Linked DNA regions of Homo sapiens. The protein of the gene in region 1 interacts with the protein of each later gene in a pairwise test. Each region holds a gene or a part of one and is shown in the gene's direction. Other genes may lie near its edges. The genes, in order: THAP10, CCNDBP1, LZTS2 and KRTAP10-9.

What was found.
Region 2: the proteins of THAP10 (region 1) and CCNDBP1 interact in binary tests that used the Homo sapiens proteins (3 or more experiments, as listed by UniProt).
Region 3: the proteins of THAP10 (region 1) and LZTS2 interact in binary tests that used the Homo sapiens proteins (3 or more experiments, as listed by UniProt).
Region 4: the proteins of THAP10 (region 1) and KRTAP10-9 interact in binary tests that used the Homo sapiens proteins (3 or more experiments, as listed by UniProt).

What each region holds. Positions count from the first base shown.
Region 1 is NC_000015.10:70,889,434-70,897,092, reverse strand, and holds the start of THAP10 (THAP domain-containing protein 10), read left to right. Parts: upstream 1-4,659; 5' UTR 4,660-4,820; coding exon 4,821-5,249; intron 5,250-7,659. Other genes in the region: LRRC49 (leucine-rich repeat-containing protein 49), read right to left, coding at 1,157-1,244, 3,438-3,509, 4,151-4,198.
Region 2 is NC_000015.10:43,180,468-43,188,402, forward strand, and holds the start of CCNDBP1 (cyclin-D1-binding protein 1), read left to right. Parts: upstream 1-4,935; 5' UTR 4,936-5,031; coding exon 5,032-5,140; intron 5,141-5,301; exon of another isoform or gene 5,302-5,352; coding exon 5,353-5,412; exon of another isoform or gene 5,413-5,420; intron 5,421-5,686; coding exon 5,687-5,766; intron 5,767-7,935. Other genes in the region: TMEM62 (transmembrane protein 62), read left to right, coding at 714-832, 3,793-4,119. UniProt on the Homo sapiens protein: May negatively regulate cell cycle progression. May act at least in part via inhibition of the cyclin-D1/CDK4 complex, thereby preventing phosphorylation of RB1 and blocking E2F-dependent transcription.
Region 3 is NC_000010.11:100,995,082-101,002,809, forward strand, and holds the start of LZTS2 (leucine zipper putative tumor suppressor 2), read left to right. Parts: upstream 1-4,726; 5' UTR 4,727-4,871; intron 4,872-7,415; 5' UTR 7,416-7,457; coding exon 7,458-7,728. UniProt on the Homo sapiens protein: Negative regulator of katanin-mediated microtubule severing and release from the centrosome. Required for central spindle formation and the completion of cytokinesis.
Region 4 is NC_000021.9:44,622,177-44,628,898, forward strand, and holds KRTAP10-9 (keratin-associated protein 10-9), read left to right. Parts: upstream 1-4,916; 5' UTR 4,917-4,995; coding exon 4,996-5,874; 3' UTR 5,875-6,202; downstream 6,203-6,722. UniProt on the Homo sapiens protein: In the hair cortex, hair keratin intermediate filaments are embedded in an interfilamentous matrix, consisting of hair keratin-associated proteins (KRTAP), which are essential for the formation of a rigid and resistant hair shaft through their extensive disulfide bond cross-linking with abundant cysteine residues of hair keratins.

The sequences.
Region 1 (7,659 bases):
ACCAAAAATGTCAAGGAAATTGACAATGCAAGCATAAAAACCCTAGTTGAGGCTTCACATCTATAATTCTGTACCTAAAACAGTGATCGGCACACAATACTTGCTTTATAAATAAGTATTGAACTGAATCAAATAAGGCAAAGACAGATGTTTTCCACACTGTGGAACTGCAGTTAGGCTGACGTCATGTCCAGCAATTGGCCAAGACAAGAGTGTAGAATGTAGGAAAGAGAAAAGATATGTCAGATTAGATGGGTCCAAGAAGTAGGTCCAGAAATAAAAAGAGAGAGAAAATTAACCAATATTTTAAATTGCCATATGTTCCCACAGTAATAACATGAACAACCTAGAAAGGCCTATACTGATCAGCCCTCTCATATAAACTCCTAAGAGGTAGAGGCAGTTTTGTATATGTGGATTCAGAAGTGTTTAACATGAGCACATTACAGAAAGCTAATGGCTGTCAGCAACAAACCAAGATTCAAATGTGAAGGAACGTTTTCCTTGATTTGAAAAATATATTTCAGAAATATAACCAGATCATGTGAGGCAGTATTTGTCAAAGGATGACCCACAAACCATATACCTCAGAATCACCTGTGACATTATTAAAATGCACATTTCCAAATCCCGCTCAAGACCTACAAAATCAGAATGGGGAAGATGGAGGGGGAGCACTAAGAATGTGCATTTTTAACAAGATCCCAAGATCCCAAGTGATAGACACTAGAGTTTAAAGCCTTTAATATAAAATCTATAATTATATGTGACAGTAACAGGGAAAGATTGTTTCTTCTCTACTCCTGACTTTACATTCTTTCCTGATTTCCTTAATATTTGTGTTCCCATACTCTTACTCTAATTAGCGACTTCCAAATACTGTTCTAATACAGTATTTGAAACATTCTTTTTCCATTCTCTAGTGTATAGCCCACCCTCAAAGTAAAATAATAACAGCTTTTTTCTGTATTGGAAATAATCTACTATGCTACATATATATAACCAATGATTTAAAAAAATACCAAACCAATTTGGTCCCAATGAACAATTTCATTTTAAATTCAAGTTTATTTGGATCTAGTAATTCAACATTATTAAACACTTAATATTATTCAAAGATGATGAACCACATCTGATCTCTATTCACTGACAATACCTTGCCTACTTGAGTAGTTTCTTTCAAGGTCATGTTGTAAAAGTCTACCGGGGAATGACGATGTGTCTTTATTTAGCTTGAATTCAACCTGAAAAACATTATTAAAGAAAAAAATATTTGGAGACAAATTTAACACCAAGCAGTGAAGATAAATTAAAAAAACATATAATAACTGATACACATGGTACAATGTGGATGAACCTTGAAAACATCATGCCAAGTGAAAGAAAACTGACACAAAATACCACATTGGCAAATCCATAGAGATGGAAAGCATATTTGTGGCTTCCAGGCATTTAAGGGAAGCAGGGAATGGGAAGTAACTGCTTAATGGGTACAGGGATTCCATTTGGAATGATGAAAAAATTCTGGAACTAGATAGAGGTGATGGCTGCACCTCTATCATTGTATTTTACCACCCACAAAATCAGGATCAATTTTATGAGGTCAGATACAAGATATTCCAAGCTGAGACACTTCCAATCCCTCCACGCTCTCACCACAAATACAATGATTAAAAGAATCATTTGCTTCAAAAAAAAACACACAATATAAATAAAATGCTGTTGAAAAAATCACTGTTTTGATCATTATAATCCTTTTAAATGTCCTATTATAATATAATAAAATTGTATATTTAAGCCTTCTAAGAAAGGTTTTCACTTGATCTAAAACTGATCTAAAATAATTATCTGGTGGGAGGACTGAGAAAAACAAAACCAGAACAACTTCTTATGATTAGCCACAAAAAACCCCAAATATGTATCTTGAATTAATTAAGATACTTCTAATGTATCCATACTATAAACATTATGTTGGCATTTGCATTATATCCTTAGGAATTATATGACCTAAAGGTATTTTCTCAGAATAGATGTCCACACAAGAGAAAGTGAATGGTTTGGAAAAAATATTTAGATGAGGCACACAGCTCTAGAAACATTATAATGGTGGAAAAGGATTTGTCCAGAGAAATCAATTAGGAAAGCTCTGGAGAGAATCCATTATGCTCAATTATAATAAATAATATTTTCAATTAATCTAACTGCTGTTTATTTGAGATGATCAAATTGTCTATTTTCTGAGTGTTTACCATTTTCATATTCATATATAATGTAATCAACAGCTGCCTCCTTGACTAACGATGTCCTTCCATTTACCTTCCTCATGCCTTTTCTTACCCTTCTTCATGCTGTTATGTGTGAACTCTGCCCTTCACTTTAGAGTTCTTCCAGTGACGCCTATTTAATAACTTTTTAGGACACACCTGAATTGTGATGGTTAGAGGTTTCCAACTTGGTCAAAGGAGGAAAAATCATGTTGTGTCTTGAGACATAGTGTGTAGAAAGTAGGTAAGTATAAATGCTGAGGTGAGACAGAAAGGAAAGAAAAACATGTTTATCTCAAAATCTCAAAAATTAAATCAAAAGCCAGAAATTCTAGAAATGCTAGAGACATTATGGGGAAATAATCTTGGGGAAAAAAATCTCATATTCATATCGTAACTTCTAAATAACGTTAAGTCTAACATGTGTCCACTGCTAACCTATTTTTTTCTTCCCTGATTTTAAATGGGATGTGTGGATATGCCCTCCCAATTACCATTTTATCTAAGGTGTCATTAGTAGTAAGACATACCATTATTTTACCCTCTATTAAGAAAGAAAAAAAACCTCCCCAATTAAACTATGACATGCCATCAATTTTAAGAAGGCTCCTGATTTCAGAAATGTGTAAATATCACTGGGTGCGGTGGCTGTTGCCTGTAATCCCAGCACTTTGGGAGGCCAAAGCAAGCGGATTGCTTCAGCTCAGGAGCTCGAGAACAGCCTGGGCAACATGGTGAAACCTGTCTCTACAAAAAATACAAAAATATTAGCCGGGCGTGGTGGCATGCACCTGTGGTCCCAGCTATTCAGGAGGCTGAGGTGGGAGGATCGCTTGAGCCTGGGAGGCAGAGGTTGCAGTGAGCCAAAATTGTGCCACTGCACCCCAGCGCCCCAGCCTGGGTGATACAGCTAGACCCTGTCTCAAGAAAAAAAAAAGTGTAAATGTCAAAAAAAAAAAACAAAAAAACCCTTACCCTTTTGTAATCAATAAAATCACATTAAGTTTTTTAAAGAGGGCTATTTTAGCTTTATGTAGGCAGAAAGTAAGAACTAGCTTTAAACTGGAAATCAAAGCAAATCTACTTAAATTTTTCAGTTTAGAATCTATCTACACTTTAAGTCATGCTGCTATTTGTGTAGAATTTAAAACAATCTTCAATTTAAATGCCAACCTTCTTAAATCTTACTTTGTTTTTTTCAGGAAGCGATGATGTTTGAATAACCAGATGAAGCCCGCAGTTCACCTGAAATGTAAAAATTAAACCATAAAATTTGCTCTTAATACACAAACACATATTTCCAAAAAAAAAAAAGGTACAAACAGAAATACAACAAAAAAATAGAACACAATGCTCTATTTCTGTTTCTGGTAAATGATCTTGTTCTGAGGATTTGCTGAAAACAATAAAATCACATCTAAGAATTAAAAGGTTTCACTGATTTATTTTCCAAAATGTCGGCAGCAATTTAACCCTCTAGTTAGTACCTCAGGCTTTCGACATTTGCCATTCAGGTCTAAATAAACATCTCAATGAGACAGGTGAAGGAGGTGGGAGTCCCTAATGATAAATTCTCTTCACAGTTAAAAGGAAAAGAAAAGAAAAAGGAATTGACTGGCCAAAGGAATTTAAATAAACCCAAGCCTTTCACAGCAGACCAGCTCCACCTTCTGGGGAGCCCAGATCCTGGACAAGACTTTGAGTACCCATCATACAATATTAAATTGTGCCTTGGTCCAGCCCACGAACCTCAAACCCTGGTCAGACAATAGCTTGAGTAGACCCAGCGGTGCCGGTCCTAATAATACAGCCCATCTCCTAGGACAAAGACGCCAGTCAGAAAGAGTACCAGTGGGAAGAAAGAGAAAGTAGAAGGCCCAACTTACGTTGTTCGCAGCCCGGCCAGAAACAGAGCGATATTTCCCGGGAATCATGATAGGAGACAGTCCAGGTTCTCTGTTAGATCTGCCTTCCAGGTGACGCTACAGCGGAGATTCAAAGAGACCCGAAAGAGGTCATCTCCCAGGCAACCTGCTCAGGGTTACCATGGAAACGACCATTTCCGGTCTGGACCTCTCCCGAATCGATAGAGCCACACAGTCGTTGCAGCTTCTAGTTGTATTCGTGAGAGCCCAGTGCGTCACCACTTCCTCGTTCTATTTTCCCAGCCTCATAAAAACAGAGCGGGAGTATTGGGAGGAGGATAAGCTGGGGAAGAGGCTGGCCACACTGGTTGCTATAACCACCACCACTTCCGGTCCGTTCCTCTTTACGGCCCACCTCAGCGCTGCCCGCGCGAAATTTGTATCCCTCTGCTTGTGTCCACTGGCTCCTGGGGAGCAGCGCAGGGAGGAGGAGGAGGAAGATATCAAAGAGCCCTCCCATTGGGGGCCCCAGATCGCCACTTCCGGTGACCAGAGGTAGGGAAGGAAACAATCCCGACCCGGAGTGGACAGGTGAGGAGGGGAGGACTTGCCTCGCCGAGGCCGCTGCGAGGAGCGTGCCCAAGGGCGAAGGTCCAGGGAACCCGGCTCCCGCGCACCGAAGACGGCCGCCATGCCGGCCCGTTGTGTGGCCGCCCACTGCGGCAACACCACCAAGTCTGGGAAGTCGCTGTTCCGCTTTCCCAAGGACCGGGCCGTGCGGCTGCTCTGGGACCGCTTCGTGCGGGGTTGCCGCGCCGACTGGTACGGAGGCAATGACCGCTCGGTCATCTGCTCTGACCACTTTGCCCCAGCCTGTTTTGACGTCTCTTCGGTTATCCAGAAGAACCTGCGCTTCTCCCAGCGCCTGAGGCTGGTGGCAGGCGCCGTGCCCACCCTGCACCGGGTGCCCGCCCCGGCACCTAAGAGGGGAGAGGAGGGAGACCAAGCAGGCCGCCTGGACACGCGAGGAGAGCTCCAGGCAGCCAGGCATTCTGAGGCTGCCCCAGGTCCAGTCTCCTGTACACGCCCCCGAGCTGGGAAGCAGGCTGCAGCTTCACAGGTAAAGAGAGACCACCGAAGGTTGTGTAAGGACCCCTGGACTCTGGCTGGGCTCCTCCACTTAGTGTCACCTTGGGAAAGGCACCTCATCTCGAAAGTTCCTGTTTTCTAATCTGCAAAGTTAGGGGTGTGCTTTAGAGGTGATCTCCAAGGTCCCACTTATCATTAACACTTTGGAATTAAGTGACCCAGTTAATTCCTTCTAACTGCTCCTCCCCCAAAACTCACACACACACACACACACACACACACACACACACACACACACACACACACAGAGTCTTGTCCTGCAGAGTAGTGAGTTGCTTTCACTCGCTGCTCCAGAGTTTTTAAATAGAAAGGGTTTAATTTGAGCAAATCTCCAGGATTGGAGTGCTTGAAACTGTGTTGCATAACATTACATAAGCTTGAGGAAAGTCCCTTATTTGTGTCACAAATGATGGGGCGAAGGAGATGTGGAGCTACAGATGAAGATGATGGAGCTTGCTAATAAATCCCTTCCCACCCCAAGCTTCCTTTATGACTGATAACTAGCTCCAGCTGCCTTTAAGTTCAGTATCCCTAGTGAGCTGACTTTCCCCATCTTGCTCTCTTCTGCCTACTTTTCTGTTCCTTCTAAACATTGTTTGCACTCATTTTGCATCTGGTTACTACTACCTTCTTCCCCACGTACCATTTTAAAGAAAACTTTCCAGCCTTCCTTGTGATAAACTTCAGCCTTGCCACCATTACACAGATTAAATTATAGCAAGAGGTTAGTAATTTCCTCAGGGGTCTGTAATCCTTACTTAGGTCCGGTTGCCAGACCAACACTCTTTCTGCAGTACTAACCTGCTTCCTACATTGGGGTGGGTATTTAAGACCCTTTAATGGCATCTTGCAATTATTAAGATAAAGAGCAAAATTATTAACCCAATTTACATGGCCCTGCATGTTTTTTCCCCCTGCATACCACACTAGCCCTAACCAAGGCCACTGTCCCTGTTGCTCACTGTGTACCATCATGCTGACCTTTCAGTTCTTGGACATACTATACTATATTACTTCCTACCAACAAGACTTTGCTCAGTTGTTGCATGTATTATAATATCCTGGAACTATGCCCCTCCCACTCCCATCATTGCCAATTAAGTCTTTTTCCCTTAAAAATCAGCTAAACATCTTTCCCCTTGATCCCTTAGTTATGTACTCTCATTCTTCGTGTACTCCATGTGATTCAATAGCACAGATACTTCAGTAGCACTTACCATAATTGCCATGAAATAATTGTGTAGTTTGCTTAATATTTGTTTCTCATATTAGAATGTAAGCTCCATGAGAGCTAGGATCATGTCTGATTTCTTTGCCATTGTATTGCAGTGCCTAAAACAATATTTTACAAATTTAAGTAATTCAATAAATATTTATGGAATGATTACATGACTATAAGAACAAATTTTTGCATTATAATTGAATTTTCAATTATCTGCCAGTTTCCCTCCTCACCAAGCTGTATACCTGTCAAGATAGCTGTCCTTTCCTTGAACCATCTGTCCACCATCACCACCTATACAAACTTTGCCCAAACATATACATCCACATACATATATATGTGTGTAGCAAGAGAGATAAATACTAAACATGTGCCACACACATCCCCCTACACCATTTTTCTTCTTCATAATTACACAACCTAATCAAAAATTGGGAGAAGAAAAGCCAAGCTAGTCAAACAACCAAAGTCTTTATAACCCATAAAAACTAACCGTTGGGAAACAGATCCAGCATACATAATAAATCTGTTTTCCATTTAGTAAGTATAACCAGCCAACATTTATAACAATCCATAGTACATTAATATACTTGCTGAATTACTAGAAAACTGTGAGTTCTAAAATAGTCACTTTAAAAGTATATAAGGTTAAAAAGATTTTGAGTTGATAGCAATAAATGTTTAGCCTGGTCTGGATAAAGAACCCTAACCACATCGCTAAAAAATTGGCTTGTCTATCTGACTTCTTCCCCCACCCAATGTTTTTCTTCCCAATCCCAGGACTAACTGTCTAAAAATCAGATTTCCAGTGATTCTGCAACATTTATTGAAGAGCTATTGTAGACACTGTTCTGGGTGCTTGGTGCTATATATGGATCAATATAAATATGAGTGTTACATATCTTTAGGGGGCTTCCAAAAAGATAAGACACCACTTCCAAGGAAAGAAAGGGGCTTATTTATTGTTTTCCCTTAACTGTTAATTTTGCATTCTTTTTTAAAAAACCCAACTGAATTTTTTAAATTGTTGACTTGAACTATAGCAAATACACAGAAAAGTGAACAAATCTTAAGTGGACAAGTCATTAAATTATCATAAACTGAACATGTGTAACCACAACCCAAGTCAAAGAAACAGAACATTGCTAGCACCCCAGGA
Region 2 (7,935 bases), about 28 Mb from region 1:
TCTTGACAAACAACTTGACACTCTTATGGAGACCAGCACACTTACAAGACAAAATGACAATAATAATAATAATAATACCTAGAAACTCACACACTGAGAATGGGGCAGTAAATAATAATAGGGAGGATAGAAAAGTCAGCATGGCATTCCAGATGAGAAAACTGAAGCAAGTTAAACTTTCTACATGGTAACCGTGATTATGTAGTTGATATACAAAGTAATGACTGTGGGCCTTCAAGAAGAGGTTAAAATACATTCATTATATTAACGAGTGCATCTTAGAAAGATTTCTTTCAAAAAGTAGTTGAAGTTTTTTTGCTTTAAGGAGTAAATCTCAATCATCTGGAAATTTAACTTCTGTGGAATACCTCTTTACATCTTAAAGGAAATGTTAATGCATTATATTGAGGTTATTATTGCAATGGAATTTTCAAAAATGTGAGTGTGCTTTTTTTGTTTCTAGAATCTATAAGACACATATCTGTTCTAGGTATAGTGTCTACTAAGACAATTTCACAATCCAAAAAATAGTTGGTTAGCAAGGATATCAAGTACAACACAGAGACTAGCAAAGAGGGAAGGCTATGAAATAAAATGCTTATAGATGGCTAGTCTCATATCTCTGCTTTATTCCTATAAATGTATCTCATGATATATGTAATCAGAATTATAGTTATTTAATCTCCTCCTTTTTTGTCCATTGCCTCTTTTAGGTCCATGGTTTTTTGGTGAAATCATTGATGGCAAATTTGGTTGCTGCTTTTCCTTTGGGATATTTGTTAATGGACATTTCCTACAAGGCAGCATAACATTTATAATTGGAATTCTCCAGGTAAGAAGTCAGAAAAGCAATTTAAGAACATCTTGGACTTGTCAGACTAATTGCATAACAGTTATGAATTAAATCCAAAATCCAGAATTAAGTACCATAGATCATCTTTCCTACTTTACTTGCAGGGCAGTCTTTAATAAAAGCTTCATTTGCTTTTAAAGTGCTTCCTAAACTCCTTCCACCACTCTCATGTAAACATCTAAAATACATTTTTTTTTCCCCAAGACAGTGTTCTGCTGTCGCCCAGGCTGAAGCACAGTGGTGCAATCTTGGCTCACTGCAGCCTCCACCTCTTGGGTTCCAGCGATTTTCCTGCCTCAGCCTCCTGGGTAGCTGGGATTACAGGCATGTGCCACCATGCCTGGCTAATTTTTGCACTTTTAGTAGAGACAGGGTTTCACCATGTTGGCCAGGCTGGTCTCGAACTCCTGACCTCAGATGATTCACCTGCCTTGGCCTCCGAAAGTGCTAGGATTATAGGCGTGAGCCACCATGCCTAGCCTAAAATACATTTTTGTCATGAAGTGTTTATAAGAGGTGAAAGAAGTTTTTGTTGTTTTTGTTTCACTGTGCTTTTTCATTGACAAAAAAATGAAACAAGGGATTATGGTAGAAAAAGTTTTAGATTTCTGAGTAAACCAAAACTGATTATGATGATGAAGAAGGAAAATATTTTAGAGGGAGGAAACTAAAAAATAGACACATTAAAAAAATGGGTCAGTTATTCAGTGGAAACTGCATTATTCAAAAACCAGACCTGGGCTTTCCTAGCAATGTACTTGTTTAGGAAACAAACTGATGTATTAGGTTTACATTTGATTCCTTTAAAATAAACACACAAAGAACCTTGATCCATAGAAAAACTACATAAACAGATTTGAAAAGTATTTATCTAACAGTTTCTTTATTTTACTCACCTAATGGAGTTAGTGGACCAAAATTTGAAGTTTTGGAAGAGATCCAAAAACATTCAAAATAAGTTCATGGCCTTCTAACAGGGCAGTAGAACATGATCCAACAGGATTAGAGACAGCCAAGTAGGAAAGACTTCTGCCTAGCAAACACTGACCCAAGTCCAGAATATTCTCTGCATAGCAGCATTATATACATGAGTAGGTCCTGGGTTCATTTCAGTTTTCTTTTCTTTTCTTTTCTTTTTTTTTTTTTTTTTGAGATGGAGTCTCGATCTTGTCGTCCAGGCTGGAGTGCAATGGCATCGTCTCGGCTCACTGCAACCTCTGCCTCCCTAATTCAAGTGATTCTCCTGCCTCAGCCTCCCATGTAGCTGGGGTTACAGGTGCCTGCCACCATGCCCGGCTAATTTTTGTATTTTTAGTAGAGACAGGGTTTCACTGTGTTGGCCAGGATGGTCTCGAACTCCTGACCTCAGGTGATCCGCCCGTCTCGGCCTCCCAAAGTGCTGGGATTACAGGCGTGAGCCACTGCACCCAGCCTCATTGCAGTTTTCTATTATGTTGATGGAGGCTGTCTCTAAGGAGCTCTCTCATACCAAATGAATCCTGAGCCTTACCAAAAGGCAGGGTTTTTTCCTTTGTAAATGTTTACATTCATATTCTAATAAATAGTACACTAATAATGGATTTTATGTATCATCCAGACCCATGAATCCCAAATCTATATCTCTGATCTAGACCTCTTCTCTGCACTTCAAGTGCCTCTATATCCAATGGCCACAGATGTCTAACAGGCATCTCAACTTCATGTGATGTCTCTCTGATAGGAACATTATTTCCACCCCAAACCTGTTCCTCTCTGTTTTTCCAGTTTTAATAAATGACTCCACCATTCACCTGATTTCTCCAAGATGTATCCTCAATTATTCCCTTTCCTTCATACCCTGTATCTATTTCACCAGCAAGCTCTACCTTATTTGATCTGCTTCCAATGCATATCTTGAATCCATCCACTTCTCTCCATTTCTGTTTTCCTAATCTAAGTTGTAATTATTTCTTGCCTGGGTCTTCTCCCTGATATTCTTGCCTCCTTACTCTCAGCTTAATACAGAGCATCCAGTGTGCTCTTTTAAAAACTTTACAATCAGCTCACTTACTTTTCAGCTTGAAATGCTTTGAAGCAGAGCAGTGATCTGGGTCCTGCCGACTGCCCCAATTTCCACCTGGCTCATGCTCTGCATGCACTTCCTTAAAGAGGCCAAGACCTCTCCCACCTCTGGGCTTTTCATTTGTTCCTTCTGCCTAGAATGCACTTCCCTCCGCTGATTCATTCTTGTCCTTCTGGCCTCTGAGAGCCTTTCTCCCAGTTACCTTCTCATGACCCAGTTCTTTCCTTCATTGAACTAATCACGATCTGTAATTATATTTTTTGGTTTTTTTTTTTGTCTGTCTTCTCCCTGTTAGAATGTAAGCTCTATGACGGACCTTTTCTAACTTGTTTGCCATTGTGTCCCCAACTTGGAGCCTAGCTCATGCCTGCTACATAATGGGTGCTCAATAAATATTTGTTAAATGAATGAATCATACAGCAGCTCAACTTGGATTATAATTTAGATACTCTAATTTATATTCCAGTACTTATCATGCTACCTCAAACAAAAATGGAGGTAAGAAAAAAAATACTGATAGCCAAGTCCTCCCCTCACTCCACCAAAAAAGAGGGGTTGTTGTATGTGTGTGTATACATTTACTCAGTTCAATTCCAGCTTAACACCATTGGGTATTAACTGTGTATATGATACTGTACTACAAGTTGGGACTTCAGCATAAATTAAATGATACCTGCCTCTAAGATGAATAAAAGGACATGGGCAAATACACAACTAGCCACAAGTCAGCTGTTGTGTTATAAGCAACTGTGCTTGAAGTAAATTAGCTAACGCCAAGACAGATAGCAGCATAGTCTTAGGATCCACTAATAATGCATTATTAAGACCAAACTCTTCCAAGGACTTGGGAGTAAGCTATGGTTCTGTTCTTTTCCAGCTGGCGTTTTTTAACATCCCCTTGATGGCTTACATGTGTTGGAGCTTGCTGCAGCGGTGCTTTGGTCACAACTTCAGGTCTCATCTCCATCAAAGAAAATACTTGAAAATTATGCCTGTTCACCTACTTATGCTACTGCTGTACATCTGGCAGGTTTATTCCTGCTACTTTCTTTATGCAACATACGGCACCCTAGCTTTTTTATTCTCCCCTTTGCGGACCTGGTTGACACTGCTGACACCTGTTCTCATTCGTTATGTGTGGACACTGAACTCCACCAAGTTTGGAATCTTCATGGTGCAGTTAAAAAGCCACCTGAGCTCCTGAAGGCCATGTCTCACCACTGGCAGCTGGGCAGAAGCCCAGCCTCTGTGTCTGTAGCCCAGGCCTCTACCCCAGTAGCAGGTGGAGGGCCAGGATTGGTGGGTGAGCTTTAGGGAGCAGCTGCTCGTTTGGAGTCCTGGACGTTGGAGGGATTACCCACTACTGATACCTGCAGAATGGACTGCAGAAAAGTCTCAAAAATAATGCCTTTATTCCTTCCCTCCCTAAGGAGGCAAAGAGTTGATTTACCTTTGTGAAGAGAAAACCCTTATCTAGGACATCCACAGGGTAGAGGTTGGGTGTGTGTACGGGAGTGTCTGAGGCCCAGTGTGTTTTTTAGGGTTACCCCATGTAAAGCACTTACCGCTGTGCTTGGAATTCAGCAGCTGTCAAAGGTGCAATTTCAGGGGCAGGGAACCTTTGAGGATCTGGGCCCGACCCTCACTACCCCTGAGATATTAGTTCCCAGGCCTGTTTTCCCACAGGATTGTGGGCTCTCTGCTTCCTTAGTCGGAAGTGTTTTCAACTAATCAAATAAATGAATGAATGATGAATAAGAAAGACGGTGAGCCTGAGGCTTGCTTGTGTAGCCTGGCCTAAGGGGCAAGAGAAGGCGTGGCCTGTCCTGGCCTCTGAGAGTGGGATGGTTGGTGCTGTACCTCAGGGGACAGGGCGGGGCGGGAGGAGGCGGGGCCAGGCCTGGTCTCTGATAACGGGATGGGTGGTGCTGGACCTCGGGCGGGGCCGGGCCTCGTGGCGGGAGGAGGCAGGGCAGGGCCTCTGGGACGGGGCTGGACGGCTTGTTGACGGAAACGAGCCCTTGACGCTGTGGCCCGGAAGTGGAGCGGCTGTCGCAGTGCGGCTCCGGCAGTGGCAGCGGAGGCCTGTGTTTGCGGCCTTCGGCAAGCGACTGAGATGGCGAGCGCAACTGCACCTGCAGCCGCAGTCCCCACCCTGGCTTCGCCTTTGGAGCAGCTCCGGCACTTGGCGGAGGAGCTGCGGTTGCTCCTGCCTCGAGTGCGGGGTGAGCTGACGGAGTTAGAACGGGCGACGGCAGGGGCGGGCTCGGGGTCGGGGAGAGGCCGGGCTCGGGGTCGGGGAGAGGCCGGGCTCGGGGTCGCGGAGAGGGCGGGCTGGGGCGGCGGCGGGGAGCCGGGCTTGGGCGAGGGAGGTGGCTCCGCTTACCTCAGCTTTTCCATTCGCCACCGTTCGGCCCCCACACGCCACACCCACAAGTCGGCGAAGCCCAGGAGACCACCGAGGAGTTTAATCGAGAGATGTTCTGGAGAAGACTCAGTGAGTGCGCCTCCTTCCGGGCTCCCCTTGCCTCAGTTCCTCCAGCGTCCCGACCCCTTTTCCTCCCGCTGTCCCCCACGGAGGGGACTGCTCTCCCCCGCTGCATCCTTTCTGTGAGGTACCTTACCCACCTCAGCACCTGAGAGGGTGAAATAGAATTCTAACCTCGACATTCGGGAAGTGTTTTTGAGAAGTCTCGGTCGGTAAGGGAAGTCTTCCAAGTCCGTGCAGCACTAACGTATTGGCACCTGCCTCCTCTTCGGCCACCCCCCAGATGAGGCAGCTGTGACTGTGTCAAGGGAAGCCACGACTCTGACCATAGTCTTCTCTCAGCTTCCACTGCCGTCTCCACAGGTGGGCTTCACTTTCGTGGAATCCTTGGGCTGCCGAGTTACACCTTAGGAATCCTCTAATTTTCTTTCCACCTTTTGCACGCACGCCAGGAGATTTCTTTTCTTCATCTGTCCAGTGAGGTTACCGTTTTTACTTCACAGGATTGTTGTGAAGACCGAATTGCCAAGTGCAGTTCCTGGCGCGGAGTAGGCAGGTCTTATAAATATTGGTTCAGTCTGAAGTTTATCCTGGTTGTTTCCCTTCTGATAATTTTTTAAGCACTTTTTATTTGCTGGGTGTTTTCACATACTTGATGGCCATCTGACAGATGAGCAAGGAGGCTCAGAAGCTCAGCTTAAGATTTAAAAAAAAGCAGGGGGGCTAGAATTTAAATCAAGGTCTATCTGATGTCTAAGCTACCTATTCTGTTATACTGCATAATACCCTTTTTATATTATTTTTTATATTTAATCAGTAACATATGTAGATAGTACAAAATTCAACAGATATCAAAGTGTGTTAAGTTTACCTTTCCACCCACTTTCTCATTTTTGTCTCCCCCAGTTCCTTTTGCATTATTCCACGTATATTCTGTGCATATATACATTCATATACATTTATCTGTATGTGTCAGCTTCTTTTTACACAAATGATACATAAACACTGTTCTGGACCTTCCAACTTAGAATTACTGCAAACAGTGTCGTGATGAATTACCTAATTCTGTGTATGTGTGTATATTGGTAGAAAAAATTCCCGGAAGTAGAATTGCTAGAACAAAGATTTATGCATTTTAAATATTCCTTTATTATAAAACTAATGAAAGTAAACATGTTGGCTATGACCACGTATGCTCTATGCTCAGTTTTTCTAGAGTTGTGTATGCTTAATATAGGAGTAAGATTCTTTTAAAATGGCATATTCATTGCCTTATTTGATTTTCATAGTCAATTGTTTTAATTTTTCAGTCTACATATATAGGTGTTTGGAAAGGATATAAATATCTTCTGCTGCATGTACCTACAGTGATAAACTCTCTCCTCCTACATACCTTTGAGATTTTTTTTTTTTTTTTGAGACAGAGTCTCTCTCTGTCACTCAGGCTGGAGTGCAGTGGCACAGTCTGGGCTCACTGCATCCTCTGCCTACCGGGTTCAAGCAGTTCTCCTGCCTCAGCCTCTCGAGTAGCTGGGATTACAGGCACCTGTCACCACGCCTGGCTAATTTTTGTATTTTTAGTTGAGACGGGGTTTCACCATGTTGGGCAGGCTAGTCTCGAACTCCTGACCTCAAGTGATCCGCCTGCCTTGGCCTCCCACAGTGTTGGGATTACAGGTGTGAGCCACCGTGCCTGGCCTACCTTTGAGATTTGTGATGAGGAAACAAGAGATGAATTGTATGAGAGCACTTCAAAAGATTCATGGAAAATACTTATTTCAAAAAGAGTAGTTAATATTACCTTATTTTTCTTATCTGCTAACCCCTTTCTTTCAAATGCACTTAGGACTTGCTGCTAAAACTCACTGCAAGTAAGATACCACAAGGAGGCAGCATAGAACTGATTTTCTATACATGCTCAGGACAGTAGTTTCACTCATAGATGAAAAGTTAGAATTTGGATTTATTTGAAATATATACAAATATTCAAGTATATACATATATTCAAATAAATACATATATGTATATATGTGTGTATATACACACATACATACACATGAATCATCATTGCCTTCTTGAGATCTCACCACTTTAGTCCTACTAAAAGATGGGTGGTTGTTGGTTTTTTTTTGTTGTTGTTGTTGTTTTTTAAATTCCAATCTGTATGGAATGATACTTTAATAAAATTATGTGCTCGGATGTTGAATAAATGTCAAATTGCCATAAAAGTTTCTAAACACTCTCAGTCACTGCTTATCTCATCCCTGACTGGTCACAAACAGTTTGTAGACTGGCTCCAACCTGGACCACATTTGTATAGTATTGACTTAGAATTTAACAGAAAATTGAGGACAAGGAAGATGAGAAAGCCAGTGACCACCTAGAAGGAAAATAGTTAACATGGAGCATTGTCGAGTCCATGCTAGTTACCTTTAGTTACATATTCTGATTCTGTTAAAAAAAGAGAGAGACCTGGTTAATGGTTTAATAACCATGGTCTGTCAGTTGGTCTGTCTGTCTCTCTCCCTCCCT
Region 3 (7,728 bases), on another chromosome or scaffold:
GAGAATGCAATATGTTCTGAGGGGGCTGGGGAGAATCCTTTTGTAAGGGTTGGGGGAAGGTTTCCTGCTCCGTTTGGAAGCAGGGCTGCCTTGTCAGGCTCTTCCTTTCAACCTATGAAGGGGCTTCTGGGGCCGATGGAGGGGTCTGTGGTCTCTGGAGTGTGAGAACTCTGGTCACAAATGTCTCCTGAAACATCCGGAGCAAGGCTGCTGGAAAGCTGCTCTCTGTGAGGAAGAACCTGGGGGGGTGGGGAGAGCTCCTCCAGGGCCTCCCTTCTTGGGGGTCTCTCCCAGACTGGCTGGAGCCAGGCCTCCCTAATCCCGCAGTAATCATTCCCAGCCGTTGGCTGGTCTAGGCCTCATCCAGAGTCTGTAACGCTGAACGGCAGCCATGCCTTCCAGAGGCACAATACCATATCAGTCATACCTGTAAGGATGTGGGTTCCACATTCCTGTCTCCCTAGAATGCCTGGTGGGTTCTCAGGAGATCTTTTAGGGGTTTCCAGTAGGGGACCTTTGTGAGGTCTCTGTGAACTGGGGATAGAGGGATAGATACAGACTTGGCTGTTTGTCTTGCCCCACCCTTCTAGCAGACACCCCCACACAGCACAAACCAGAATGATGAGGGGGAGGGGAAGCTAATACTCCCCCCAGCCCTACCCGCTGCACAAACACGTTCTATTCCATACCTGCCTTAAATACCCCATATCATGATTCCACCCAGTCTGTTCAGATCCCTGGATTCTAGAAAGCAGTGGGGGGTCCCTAGGGCCTGTGCGGATTCCCTGGGATAGGACTGGTCTGTCTACACCCAACTGGATGTTAAGAATCTCCCTGACTCACAGGTTCGGTGGATTGGGAGGAAAAAAAAAAAATTTCCCTGAGATCTCAGGAAAGGCCTGGCTAAGCCAGGTCCAGTTGGATCTACAGCCTTGTCCTCTAATTGATAATGTATGTCACACTTGGCCATGAGGGGACAGCTTTGGTCCTCTGGCAGCTTCCTCTCTGCTGTGGATGGGTTTAAGAAGAAACAACTCGGCCGGGTGCGGTGGCTTACGCCTGTAATCCCAGCACTTTTGGAGGCCGAGGCGGGTGGATCACGAGGTCAGGAGTTTGAGACCAGCCTGGCCAATATGGTGAAACCCCGTCTCTACTAAAAATACAAAAATTAGCCGGGCGTGGTGGTGCGCGCCTCTAGTCCCAGCTGCTCTGGAGGCTGAGGCAGGAGAATCGCTTGAACCTGGGAAGCGGAAGTTGCAATGAGCCAAGATCGTGCCGCTGCATTCTGGGCGACAGAGCGAGACTCCGTCTCAAAAAACAACTCACCGAGGTCTCCTGTAGCCCATATGGGCCAGATACCTGTAGACCTTCCTACATGCTGCCTTGAGTGCCATGGTGGGAGGGAGCCCTTGGGGCCTCCCTGCAATACAGGCCAACTTCCTGTTTGTGCCTGTGGGTGGGACTTTATGAGTCTTCGAGAAGCCCAGCCATGCCCCGTGGGGGTCAGAACCCGCAGGCCTGCTCACCTGGGCAGATACCTACTCTAGGGAGGGGGCTGTGCTGGTTCTGCCTGGGCAGCCCCACGCTGAGGTGTGTGCGTGGTAGGGGTAGGTGGGAGCTGCTCTGGTGAAACTTGAGCCTTCTTTGTCTGCTTCCCAGGGGTTGTCCCTGTATTTGGGGATTGGGCCAAGAGTGGACCGGGTTGGGCTCCCATCGGAGCAGGGAGGGTGGCAGAGTCAAGCTCTTAGTTTAAGCTTAGTTTAAGGCAGCCAGGTAGCCGAATTCTCGGTCACGTGATGCTCGCCCCCTTCCCCAGGTCAAAAACCAAATCCAGTAAGCTGTGAAGTCAGAGGCCAGAGGGGCAGCCTCGGCCACCGTCGAGTCACTCTTAGGCTGGGCACTGGGTCGGCTGCTGGTGGAGTGCGGGGCAGACCACTCCCCTCCCTGGGTGGGGGGCGCGGCCTGAGCCGCCCCGCCCCGCCCCGCTCCACCAGGTCGGGCCAGGCGGGCGCCGGGAGCTGGGAGCCGGGAGCCCAGAGTTCGGAACCTAGAGTTCGGAGCCGGCTAGGGAGCCGGCGTTGTCGCGGCGAGGAGGTGGGCGCGCTGGAGCAGGAGCGGGGCCGGAACTGGAGCCGAGGCGCAGGTGGCGCTGGGTGAGTGGTGGGGCGGCGGAGGTGCAGGAACTCCCGCCTCCCGCTCATCCCCGCTCCTGAACGAACTTTCCGCTTCTAGGGAAGCTAGGGGTTGGGGTGAGGAGGGGGGTCCGCACTTGGTGGGGTCCCCGCGAAGAGTCCGAACAGGGAAGTGACACGAAAACGCACGCCGACGGGCCCCACACACGCGTGCACAGACCCACGCCCGCACTTGGGACACGCGAACACACATGCACTCGGAAAGGACGCGCCCAGTTGGCCACCCTTGCACTCCCAGGGACAGCGCCAGCCGGCCCGCGCGGACCCACAGCGGGCAGGGCACTCTGCGGTCGCGTATTGGGTGCGGGAAAGGGGCAGCCCTGTGACTACCGACGGGGGCGGGCCGGGTGGGACGCACCCGGAGGTTCCTGCTTCCTGGCCTCCCGCAGGTGAAGACCAAGACGTAAACAGACGCCGAGCACGTGACAGCTCCGCAGACCAGTGGCCTGTGCCCCCAACCCAACCACGGGGCGGAAATCCACCCTAGTCCGGGGCGCGTTTGCTTGGTCCCAGGCCGGACGGCGTTCCATTCTCCGCCTGGAGCGGGGATAAGCCCTCTCCCGGGAACCGGAGCACAGCGCCCCCTGGAGCCGGGGCGGAGCAGGAGGGCCCGGCTGCTGGGCAGGGCTGGGGTTAACTCGGGCTCCTGGACGTCCTTCTCCCCAGCACATTCTTGGTGTCTGCATCCCTGAAGGTTTCGGAGACAGGCCCTTGATGGCAGTGGACAGCTGCCCCCGCCTGTTACCGCCAGCCCAGAGAGCAGCTGCCTGAGCGCCTGCGGGTCCCCTTCCTACCCTCACCTCCACTCCTTGCGGGAGTCGGAGTCTCCTCCCCCCAGAAAATGCATGAGTGTAAACGCTCCCTCAATACCAGAGTGGGCCTGCCCCCCTAGAAAAAGGAGGACGAGCCCCTCCCCCCAGGGAATGAGGGAGTGGGCAGTAGCCCGATGCCTCCTCCTCGCCCCACCCCCTACCCCTACACACACGCTGAGCCCAGCTGCCGCCTGAGCTGGGCAGGCTGCCAGAAAGAGGAGGAGGCTCTCGGTGCCCCAGGAGGCAGGGATCAGGGCAAGGCCAGAGGAGGGGGCTCTGCTGGGGAGAGGGGCTCAGTCTGTTCTTGTGAGGCTGAGGGTCTGGGGTGAGTCAGGGTGGCTGGGCTGTGTTTCCCTTTCCAGGGAAAAAGAAAGAAAAACAACCCTGTCCATGGAGCTAAAAATAGAGCTGAGAGCCGGCCAGGGCTGTGGCCTGGAAGGGGGGGATGCTCCTTCCTGGGGCCCGGGCGAGCTCCGGCAGGCCTTGGCCCTGCGGGGGAGGGGGTGGTTAGGGGAGAAAGGCTGCCTTTGCCCAGGGATGCAGGCATCAGCTGACCTGACCGGGTCACCGAGACCCCTAGGGGAAAGGCTGTGCGGTAGAATATTTGTGAAGCACGGCGTGTAAGAAGTTGTCTGTGTGAGTGACTGTGAATAGAGGCTGTCAATGCGTGAAAGATGGTTAGGAGACTAAGTGCACTTGAGACTGTGACTGGGTGCGAAGGACTGCGGATTGTTGTGGAAGCCTGTGCCCAACAGGCCTGTGACACCGTGTCTGTGTGTGAGGTGGACTGGAAGATTATGGAAAGAAGGAACGCGGACCCACGTGACGGCTGAGACTGCGGCTGCATGTGGGAAAGGTCTTGTGGGTGTTAGGGAGACTGTATTGTGTGCGAGAAGGTGAGACTACTTGACCCTGAGGAAGTGGAATATTGTCTGCCGTGAGGCTGGTGTAGGTTTGGGCTGTAGGCTTGCACCGGTTCGCCCCAGTGATTGTTGGGGAGCCAGGGGCCGCTCCTCTCCGATAAATGACCTCTCTCTTAGCAAGTGATCCCGAGGGGAGGCTGGGGAGCACGCGGTCGCGCCAGAGGCCGGCCTGGGTTCGCGGGGAAAAGGGCACCGTGCCGGGGAGTGGGGCAGGGCCCGCGTGTTGGGGGCGGCTGGGTGTGTTCTCCGAGCCGGCCGCCAGGTGGCGTCGCCTCCGCGAAGCCCAGGTTGCCGCCTCCAACCCGCCGTGGGGCAGGCGCGGATCGAGCCTCGGCCTCCTACTCGGGCTAGGGCGCGGGGTCCCGGCACCGGAGAGTGGGGGACGGCCGGCCATCGGCCTCTCGCTTGGGACTCTGAGGCTGAGAGCGTGTCAGGGAAGCTTCGCCTGGAGAAGCGGAGGGGGAGGGGCGGCCGCCGCCGCGCCGTGGCCCTTTGTGCTGGAACAATGACCAGCTGCCGCTGGCCCCGGGGCCCCGGCTGGGGTTGAGGGTGACCACCGCCGCCGCCGCGTCGAGCCGAACCGAGCCCCCAGACACGCAGTCACAGGGCGTCGGAGGGAGGGCTCCCGACTGCCGCCGAGCAGCCCCTACGTGCGCCCCGGCGGATTCGCGTGACGCGGGTGCTTGCGCGTGTCCGCGCCCCGGGGCGGAGACGCCCCTCGGACCCTCCCCTGCGCGGTGCCGCCCACTCGCACCGGGCGGGGGCTGGCCAGGGCCGGGGGCGCCGCGGAGGCGGAGGCGGGGCTGGGCCGGGCAGCTCCGAGTGGCGGCGCGCGGGCCAGGGCCGGGGCCGGGGCCGGGGCCGGAGCCGGAGCCGGGGCCGGGCGGCGCGCCTGTGGAGCGCTGGGGGCGGCCTGGGGCTGAGCATGGAGCAGCGCGGCGGAGGTGAGGGGGGCCGGGTCTGGGAGGCGGCCTGGGGAGCCCCCAACTTATGCGCGGTGGAATCCAGCCGGGGGGACGGCGTTCCCCAGTCGCCCCCACTTTCTGGAAGGGGGGCTGGACTCTGGAGAATGGGTCAGGGGCTCCTGGCTTCCCGCCGCAGAATGGGAACTCGTGATCGCAGACTTGACCCCGCTTGACTGGTCCTTGGAGTTTGGGTGGGAGGGAGACTTTCCCCAACTCTTCAGATCCGTCTCCGGCCCTGAACCAGCTCCAGCCCTCTGCTCTCCTCAGCCCACTAAAAGGGGGGTGCTCCTGGGCCAGAGTGATTGCTCAGGGAGTGCTGGGGAGAATGAGGGGTTCCCATCTCCCACAGCCACAAACGCATTTCTCAAAATGGAGCCTCCACTTGCCCCTCCTTCTCTTTCGGGCTCCAAGAGCGGGAGCCGGCCTGGCTGGGCCTGGCTTTCCAGACTCCTGGCTCTGGCTCCCTGGATGTGTGGCTCTCAGGGCCCGGCTCTGTGGCACTTTGGACTTATGGGCCCTCGGCTCCGTGGGGTTGGGGGGCCCTGGCTCACTGGGTCCCGCTGGCTGTCCCCTTGTCGGCCTGACCCTCGGGCCTCTCCGAGTCTTTGTCTCTTTTGGGTCCCTGTCTTTCTCTGAGCCTGTCTCCTTCCTTCAATTTTCACTTTCTCCGTGCTCGCTGAAGTGGGGAAATGCAACAGAGGTGCCAGCCCCCTTGGCCCCCTAAGAAGTCCCTTCCCCACTGTTCACTCCACACCCTGGAGTGGGCCCAGAGAGGGGAGGGGAGGGGGTTCTCTATCTGCTCTGCTGGGGGCTGGGGTGTGTGGGGTGGTCTGAGCCCCAGCCCTACAGAGGGGCCTGTGGTCACTCCCTGCTCCTGGCCTACCCCTCCCCCAGCTCCCCGCAGCTCCTGCCCCAGCGTGGACACCTCTTCCTGGTTCGCAGTGTCTTTTGACTTGGGTGGGAAGGAGGGCGGTGGATTTAATGGAGGGCATGCGAGAAAGAAGGGGAACAGATCAGGCAAAGGAGTTAGATAATGTCCCACCTCTCCCCACACGCCGAAGAGAGAAGGAAACAGGCTCCCCCCACCAATGGGCCCTCAAGCCACCCAGGCTCCCACCACTCTCATACCTGCGTGCCCACGTTCACAGGCTCCACTGCACCACTCACCTTCCTAGTCACACACAAACACAGGAGCTCACACATAAACTCATGAACTTACTGACAAGTCTGTCCAGGCACCGTCTCTCCCACACACCACAAATTCACTTGTTAGATCCACATTTATAACTTTCACAGGCTTTCTAATGACCCCTGATCCACATACTCTTCTAAGATATACACATGTGAATTCACACATGAACTCATATGTATGTGAATGAACTGATATATCAAACATGCATAGACTCACATGATGTTTTCACACACATTTTCATACACACGTGTTCATTTTCATGCTCCTGTGCATGTAGTCACACAACAAATAACTAAATGCACACACTCCTACTCCCAGTGCAATTCTCTGTCCACTTCTTGGCCCCGCTCTGCATGATGACTTCAGCAGATGCCTAAGTCCTGGTCATCAGCGGCCTCGGGACTGGGACTAGGGAGGGGGTTCCGGGTGGAGGCTTGCAGCTGCTTCCAGGAAGGAGCAGAGCCTGGGGAGGTGGAGCCCTCTTGCCTGGGCTCTGTGGAAGTGAGGTTTTGGAGCAGCCTCCAGAGGTGAAGGCAGGGCATCTACCTTCCTCCCCTCAGGGTTAGTTTGGGGACCTTCTGAAGCTGTAGGGTTTCAGAGAGGTTGGCAGTGGGGCAGAGCCTGTGGAGGCTCCTTCAGGCCTTCAGGCCTCACCGATTGGGTGTGCAGAGGCTAGGAGTTGTCATGGAAACTGGTATGAGCCTGCATCCACCTCTGGGAGGCAGGAGACCCCAAAGGACACCTGTGGACTCCCTAAGAGCCGCGGGTTTCTTATTTAGCCAGATCGACAGAGAGGCAGTTTAGCCGCCTTTCTGTCTGAGAGAAACTGAGGCCCAGCAGAGGGAGGCAGGGCACTGCCTGGCCTTGGCTCTTTGTTCCCTAATTACCATCTGAGGTGCTGATTGCACCCCTGAGGTACCTCTGCCCAAACTGCCCTGTAATGAGGCCACCTGGCTGAGAGGACCAGGGACCTGTGCTTCAAGCTGGTAGAGAAGGCCCCTCCCTCACCTGAGTCCTGGCCTCTGTGGAGGATGCAGGATTGGGCTTGGGCCTGGGTCTTTGCTGCCAGGTGGCCCTGCGGTAATCATCCAGGCCTCCCATGCCTCTCAGCATCTCTGCTGAGTGAATTCACTCCTCAGCCCTGTTCAGACCAGCATTGGGCAGTGTGGTTTGGGGCCCAGGGGGAATTGAGATTCATTCCAGCACTTGAAGGGGGAGTCTTGGTGGGGATCAGGGCTTGTTACTGATGTCAAGGAGGTGTTTGGTCAGGATCAGTGGGTCAGGAGGGGTCTCAAGGTGGAGGGACTCTGACACCACTGCCCTGCTTACAGGTCGCCTGCGAGGCCGCTGGCCAGGCCTGAGCCTCTGCCACCATGGCCATTGTGCAGACTCTGCCAGTGCCACTGGAGCCTGCTCCTGAAGCTGCCACTGCCCCACAAGCTCCAGTCATGGGTAGTGTGAGCAGCCTTATCTCAGGCCGGCCCTGTCCCGGGGGGCCAGCTCCTCCCCGCCACCACGGCCCTCCTGGGCCCACCTTCTTCCGCCAGCAGGATGGCCTGCTACGGGGTGGCTATGAGGCACAGGAGCCGCTGTGCCCAGCTGTGCCCCCTAGGAAGGCTGTCCCTGTCACCAGCTTCACCTACA
Region 4 (6,722 bases), on another chromosome or scaffold:
TCTGTATAGCTGTGTTGACTAAAGTAACAACACATCTGCTGTGCAGGACTGGCAAGAATGTGGGGCTTTGCTGATACGTTTGAGCTTAAACCTCCCATCTCATTTTGGTTTTTGCTTACGCAAGGAATCTACTCCCTTTTATCTCCTTGCTTTACTGCTTTTGGATCTAGTGTTTTGAGATTTTTTATGCCCCCATCTTCCCCTCACTGTATTAGTTCCTTGGGCTGCCACATCAAATGTCACCAAAAAAGTGACTTATAAGAGTGGAAATTTATTATCTCGCAGTTCTTAGGGCCAGGCACCTGAAATGAAGATATCCACAGGGCCATGCTTTCTCTTAGCTCCAAGGGAGACTCTGTCCTTGCTGCTTCTAGTTTCTGGTGCTCCCAGCAAACCTTGGCGTCCCTTGGCTTATAGCTGCCTCATGACAATCTTTGCCTTGGCTGTCATACGCCGTCTTCCCTTTGTGTGTGTGTTTGAACTTCCTTCTCCTTTCTCTGATAAAGACATTAGTCATTGGATTTAAGGTTCACTATAACCCGGTATGACCTCATTTTAACTAATTTCATCTACAAAGACCCTATTTCTATGTAAGGTCACATTGTGAGTGACATGGTTTGGTTGTATGGCCCTGCCAAATCTCATGTTGAAATGTGATCTCCACTGTTGGAGGTGGGGCCTTGGGGGAGCTATTTGACTCATGGGAGCGGATCTCTCATGACTTAGTAGTGCTGTCCTTGTGATAGTGAGGGAGTTCTGGCAAGATCTGGTTAAGCGTGTAGCACCTCCCATCCCCCACTCTCTTTCTCTTGCTACTCTTTTGCCATGTGACATGCCCACTCCCCCTTCACCTTCCACCATGAGCAAAGCCCCCTGAGGCCTCCCCAGAAGCTGAGCAGATGCCAGCGCCATGTTTCCTGTACAACCTGCAGAACCATGAGCCAACTAAACTTTCGTCTTATAAATTACCCAGTCTCAAATATTTCTTTATAGCAATGCGAGACCAGCTTAACACAGTGAGGTTCTGGGTGGATATGACTTTTGGGGAGGCAAGATTCAACCCACTACACTCATCTACTTCCTCCTGAGTTGTATATTCTTTCATTACTCTAGTGGAGATTACAACATGAATCTATGACTTTTTAAAGTCTAATGTAAATTAGATCTTATATTATTTCCCAGATAGTATAGTGTACTAAGACTGCTTTAACTTCATGTAGCCCCCTCCTGAATTTTGTGATCTTCTTGCCATGTATTTCATTTCTATAAATATTTTACAACTTCTAAGACATCTTATACAGTAAATATTCATTTAGATTTCCCCATGTTGTCCTCCTTTTGTTACACTTCATTTCCTTTTCGACTTCTTGCTTCCATCTGTGATCATTTTCATTCTGCCTAATTATCTTTTTATTTTCTGTAGTGCAGATCCTACTGGTGACACAACCTCTCAGCATCCAGAGAACATCATTTTCCTGTCCTCATTTTTGAGGATCTTCTTCCCAGGTGTAGAATTCTAGCTTGGTGCTTCTTTTCTTTCAGACAGTAAATATATCATTCCATCATCCTCTGGCTGCCATCATTTCTACTGAGAAGTCATCTGTAAATGCTATTGTTGCTTCTTTAAAGGTAATATTTCTTTTTTTTTCCCTTGGCTGTTTTTAAATTTTTCTCTGTCTTTGGATTTCAGCCCCAATATGCACAGGCATGGTTTCCTTTGTATTCACCTTGCTAAACATTCTTAAATGCTTTTTGCATCTATGGGTTAATGTTTTTCATCACTTTAAACTTCTTGTCTATTAAACCTTCAAATATTTTACTACCCTTATTTTACTCATCTCCTCCTATGATTTCAACCATTTATATTCATAATTATTTACAACATAAGGGCATGCTTACTACTCCACTTTCTTCATTTCCCTCTTTTCTTTCCCATCTCTGTACTCAGGGCTGAATTTCCTCATCTCCCTTTCTTCACTAATCTTCTCTTTGGTTTTGTCTAATATGTTGTCTAGCTAATCTACTTAGTTCTTAATTTCAGCTATTATGTTCATTTCCAGAATTTCTGTTTGATTCCATTTCATAAATCTAGTTTGACACTGAAATTCTCCATTTGTCCTCTGGTTTTTTGAGCAAGCTAATCAGCATTATTTTAAATTCCAGTTTGACAATTCTAATATCTAAAGGTCCTGTGTATCTGTTTCTCTTGTTTGCTTTTTCCTCTTGGTCCTTTGGTCAGTTGGTTTGTCTTCTAGTAGCCCTAGTAATTTTTGACTGAATCCAGGACTTCATGAAAATTTCCAAGATGATTTGAGCCTCTGTTGATGCTGCTGTCTCCAGAAGAGATCACTTTTGTTTCTGGGAGGCACTTAGGCTACAGGCAGATCATATGAGTTCAATACGAGCTGATTTAAAGGTGGGCTTCATTCTTCTTTCCGTTTTTTCCTTCATCCTAGGGCGTAATCCTTCACTTATATTCACTGTTTCCAACTGACAGTCTGTTGTTGTTGTTGTTTTACCAGAATCCCTCCTCCTTGTCAGGTCCTGAACTCTATGTTTTTGTCTTCCAATTGTATGAGACTACTAAAAGCTGTGCTCAGCCTCAGCCTCATGGCTGTAGTCTGTGAATCAGTAAATGCCTCAATAAGAAAATCCAGAAGAAATATTAGACTCACTTCTGTGCACTTTCCCTCTAATAGGGATTCACTCACTCAAGTCTCAGCTGTCTTGGTGACTCCTGGTGCCCTCAAATAGAGATTTTGTTTGTTAAACCAGGTTTCCTAACTTTTCTCAGCTAGATGGCCAGTCTGATGTCAGCCAATTCCCCACACACAAAAGCAGAACTTGACAGAGAGTTTTATACAGCATAAGAAAAAGGTAGCATAATGGAATCGTTTTCAGAGGTCAAAATTACTCTTCGATAATTTCTCCAAAAACATTTATTATTTCAGCCCATTTTTATGAAGGATCTTCCCTATTCCAGGCATTATTTTAGGCCCTCAGAGACTGAGTGGTGAACAAGACAACCACACTTCCTGCCCACATGAAGCTTACCTTTGAAGAATGGGAGCTGAGCACAGCAAAGAAAATGAGCATGAAAAGTTAGGAGACTTGGCACAGAAATACTGATGATGGGCCACGCACGGTGGCTTACGCCTGTAGTCCCAGCAATTTGGGAGGCCAAGGCAGGAGGATCACTTGAGCCCAGGAGTTCAAGACCAGCTGGGCAACATAGCAAGACTCTGGTCTCTACAAAAAAAATTTTTTTTTACAAAAAGAAATATTGATAATGGGACTTGAATTATCTATGATTGAAGCGTATCATAAAGCTATGGCCTGAAAGAGCAGAACCAAATCCATAGCCCAAAATGGACCAGTTCAAAACTTTTCTATCCTGTCTGAAACCCAGTCCTATCCCCAGCGTTCCCACATGCAAGTCTGAGTGGACCTCGGGGAAGGCCGCGGGGAGCGGCATGGCCTCTCTTTCCTTGCTCCCCTTCTCCCTGTTTTGGGCTCTAATTTCTTCAGTGATGGGGACGGGGGAAGGAATGTGCAGGGCCACCACTGTGGGGCTCACTGGCCACTGCTGCACCTTCTCTCCGGCTGCTCCAGTGATCCTGTGCTTCTACCAGCTGCTTCTGCCTCTTCAGTGAGGACCCACTTTAGAGACACCCCCAGGGACAGTAGCTGGAGGACTCTCTCCCTGGGACACCACACTTTGCGTAAGACTGAAGGGCCACCCCTGCCTCCACAGCCTCCTTCTTACAACCTGGGCAGCACTGGTGGGGTGTGGCAGCTGGCCATAGCTGGTCAACTTCTGTCTTATTTTAGAAACCCTGTGGGGACAGGTCTGACCCAGAATGTTAGCATTATTTTTAGAATGAGAGGCCGTTTCCAGCTTTGCCAGATTCACAGCAACAAAGACGTTCTACTCAACATCGTGTAATACGTCTTACTTTATAATGAAATATGCGTATGTGTACTTGAATTTTTAAATAAAAATGTGAAATCACAATCAATATTATAATTAGCTGCTGGGTAGCAATGTTCCTGGAAAGTGATCAGGGCCATTTTATAAGGCAAGAAGCTCGGGACTTCATCATGCCCTGTGGTGATAACAATTCATCATCAAAGATCATGCAGCCGTGAGAGTTGCCTGTGGCTGACCTGGGGGTGTGTGATGGGGCCTGTGGGCAGGGCTGGTGAGAAAAAGATGCTTGCAGTGCAGGGCACACGGAGGAGATGGCTCCAGCAGTGGCGAGGGCTGGCGGCTGCCTGCTGCCTAGCACAGCTACTTCACGGGTTCAGAACCCGAAACCACAGCCCACGATGCTGCCATTGTGCCTCAGCAAGGAGTGGGCTGAGCCCACGATCCCTGCCCTGGAACAGAGTCCTGCTGCCTCCCAAGCAAAGGACAGGGTGGGCAATGAACAGAGGGCAGGAGGCACAGAGGCCATGGGGATTAGAAATTGGCGAGTCCTGTGTCCTACAGCAGGGGAAGGACCATACTAGAGGAGGAGTTTGCACCACAGGAAATAATTCCTAAGGGCCGGCTTCCTGCAGAGGAAGCCCGTGTCCTGAGGCTGCTGGGGCCAGTGGCTGGACGATGCCCCAGCAACCAAAGATGGCCCCAGGCACATCCCACCCACATCCCACCCACCAGACGCCCACAGCCGTCCTTGCCTCCAGAACCCAGCTGGGATCAGGCCCACCCCAACTCCTGCCCCTGAGGTTCCACATGCAACAGACTATAGCCCAGGTGTGACAGGAGATTTGTGAGCTGGGCAATGTCACCAGCAAACAAACATCCCTAATCATGGCAGACGCCGCCTCTCAGCAACAAGGAAGGGGAAGCTGTGGGCCCTGGAACAACAAGGCCAGGAGGGGTATAAAAGCCTGAGAGCCCCAAGAACCTCACACACTCACAAACTCACTCACTGACACACTCACACACTCACTTACACCTCCCCCAGCTCACCTCCTCCCCACCCCAGCATGGCCGCGTCCACCATGTCCATCCGCTCCAGCGCTTACTCCGACTCCTGGCAGGTGGACGACTGCCCAGAGAGCTGCTGTGAGCCCCCCTGCTGCGCCACCAGCTGCTGCGCCCCGGCCCCCTGCCTGACCCTGGTCTGCACCCCAGTGAGCCGTGTATCCAGCCCCTGCTGCCAGGTGACCTGTGAGCCCAGCCCCTGCCAATCAGGCTGCACCAGCTCCTGCACGCCCTCGTGCTGCCAGCAGTCTAGCTGCCAGCCGGCTTACTGCACCTCCTCCCCCTGCCAGCAGGCCTGCTGCGTGCCCGTCTGCTGCAAGCCTGTGTGCTGCGTGCCCGTCTGCTGTGGGGCTTCTTCGTGCTGCCAACAGTCTAGCTACCAGCCAGCTTGCTGTGCCTCTTCCTCCTGCCAGCCGGCCTGCTGTGTGCCCGTCTGCTGCAAACCTGTGTGCTGTGCGCCCACCTGCTCTGAGGATTCCTATTCATGCTGCCAACAGTCTAGCTGCCAGCCAGCTTGCTGCACTTCCTCCCCCTGCCAGCAGTCCTACTGTGTGCCTGTCTGCTGTAAGCCTGTCTGCTGCAAACCCATCTGCTGTGTGCCTGTCTGCTCTGGGGCTTCCTCTTTGTGCTGCCAGCAGTCTGGCTGCCAGCCGGCTTGCTGCACCACCTCCTGCTGCAGACCCTCCTCCTCTGTGTCCCTCCTCTGCCGCCCTGTGTGCAGGCCCGCCTGCTGCGTGCCCGTCTCCTCCTGCTGTGCCCCCACCTCCTCCCGCCAGCCCAGCTATTGCCGCCAGGCCTCCTGTGTGTCCCTTCTCTGCCGCCCTGTGTGCTCCCGCCCGGCCTGCTACAGCTTCTCCTCAGGCCAGAAGTCCAGCTGCTGACGGTCATGTCCCCCAGGGCCAGCCGGGCTCAGGCCCCACCTCCCTGCCAGTCCTTGGACCTCCCAGCCCACCCAGCCTCAGCACAGCTCAACACAGAAGGAGCAGCCCCAGCCACAGCCGCCCAGCCCCGGGGTCTCAGATGCTCACTGGCTCCTCCCTGACCTCCCCCCCGGGCAGGCGAGCCCTGGCTTCTCCTCACGGTGCTTCCTGGCTGCAGACCACAACCCTCCGCTGGTCGCTGGTTGGGGACGGGCCCTCCTGACCCGGGTCTCACCCCCAGCAGCGTCACCCTCTGCCCCTGAGCACCAATAAAGCGTCTGCGGCCCCAGCTGACTCCGTGCTGACTCTCCGCACCCAGGGCGGGAGGGGGCAGAGTGGGGCCTGGCCTGGCTCTGGGGGGCTGGGCCCCGTGGATCTCTTTACTTCCCCAGCTGGGGGGCCTCGGGGGGCTCTTGTGTGACACCTGGAAGCTCCTGTCCACCTCGTGGCACGTTCTGCTGTCCGGCTCCCCTCCCAGGTCCTGTGGGGCCCAAAAGCCTTGTTCACTGGCTGAGTCCCACAGACACCACGTGACTCAGGCTAATGCCCCACTCACTGTGGGTAGAAGCAGCTCCTTCCCATGGCAAGGGTTGGGGCTGTCCCGGGGGGTGGCAGGCCCCAGCTGTGCTGGGAGGTGGGAGACGGGCGGTGGGGGGTGGGTGTGGAGACTTGGGCTCCAGCTGTCCCAGCACTCAGGAGTTCCACTCGGAGAGAGCTTGGCCATCCTGGCCTCCTGTGGACACTCACAGACGCTCAGGGATGGCCCCTGCTCCAGCCCTGGGCTTGCCGCTGGGATGCAGAGCAGAGAA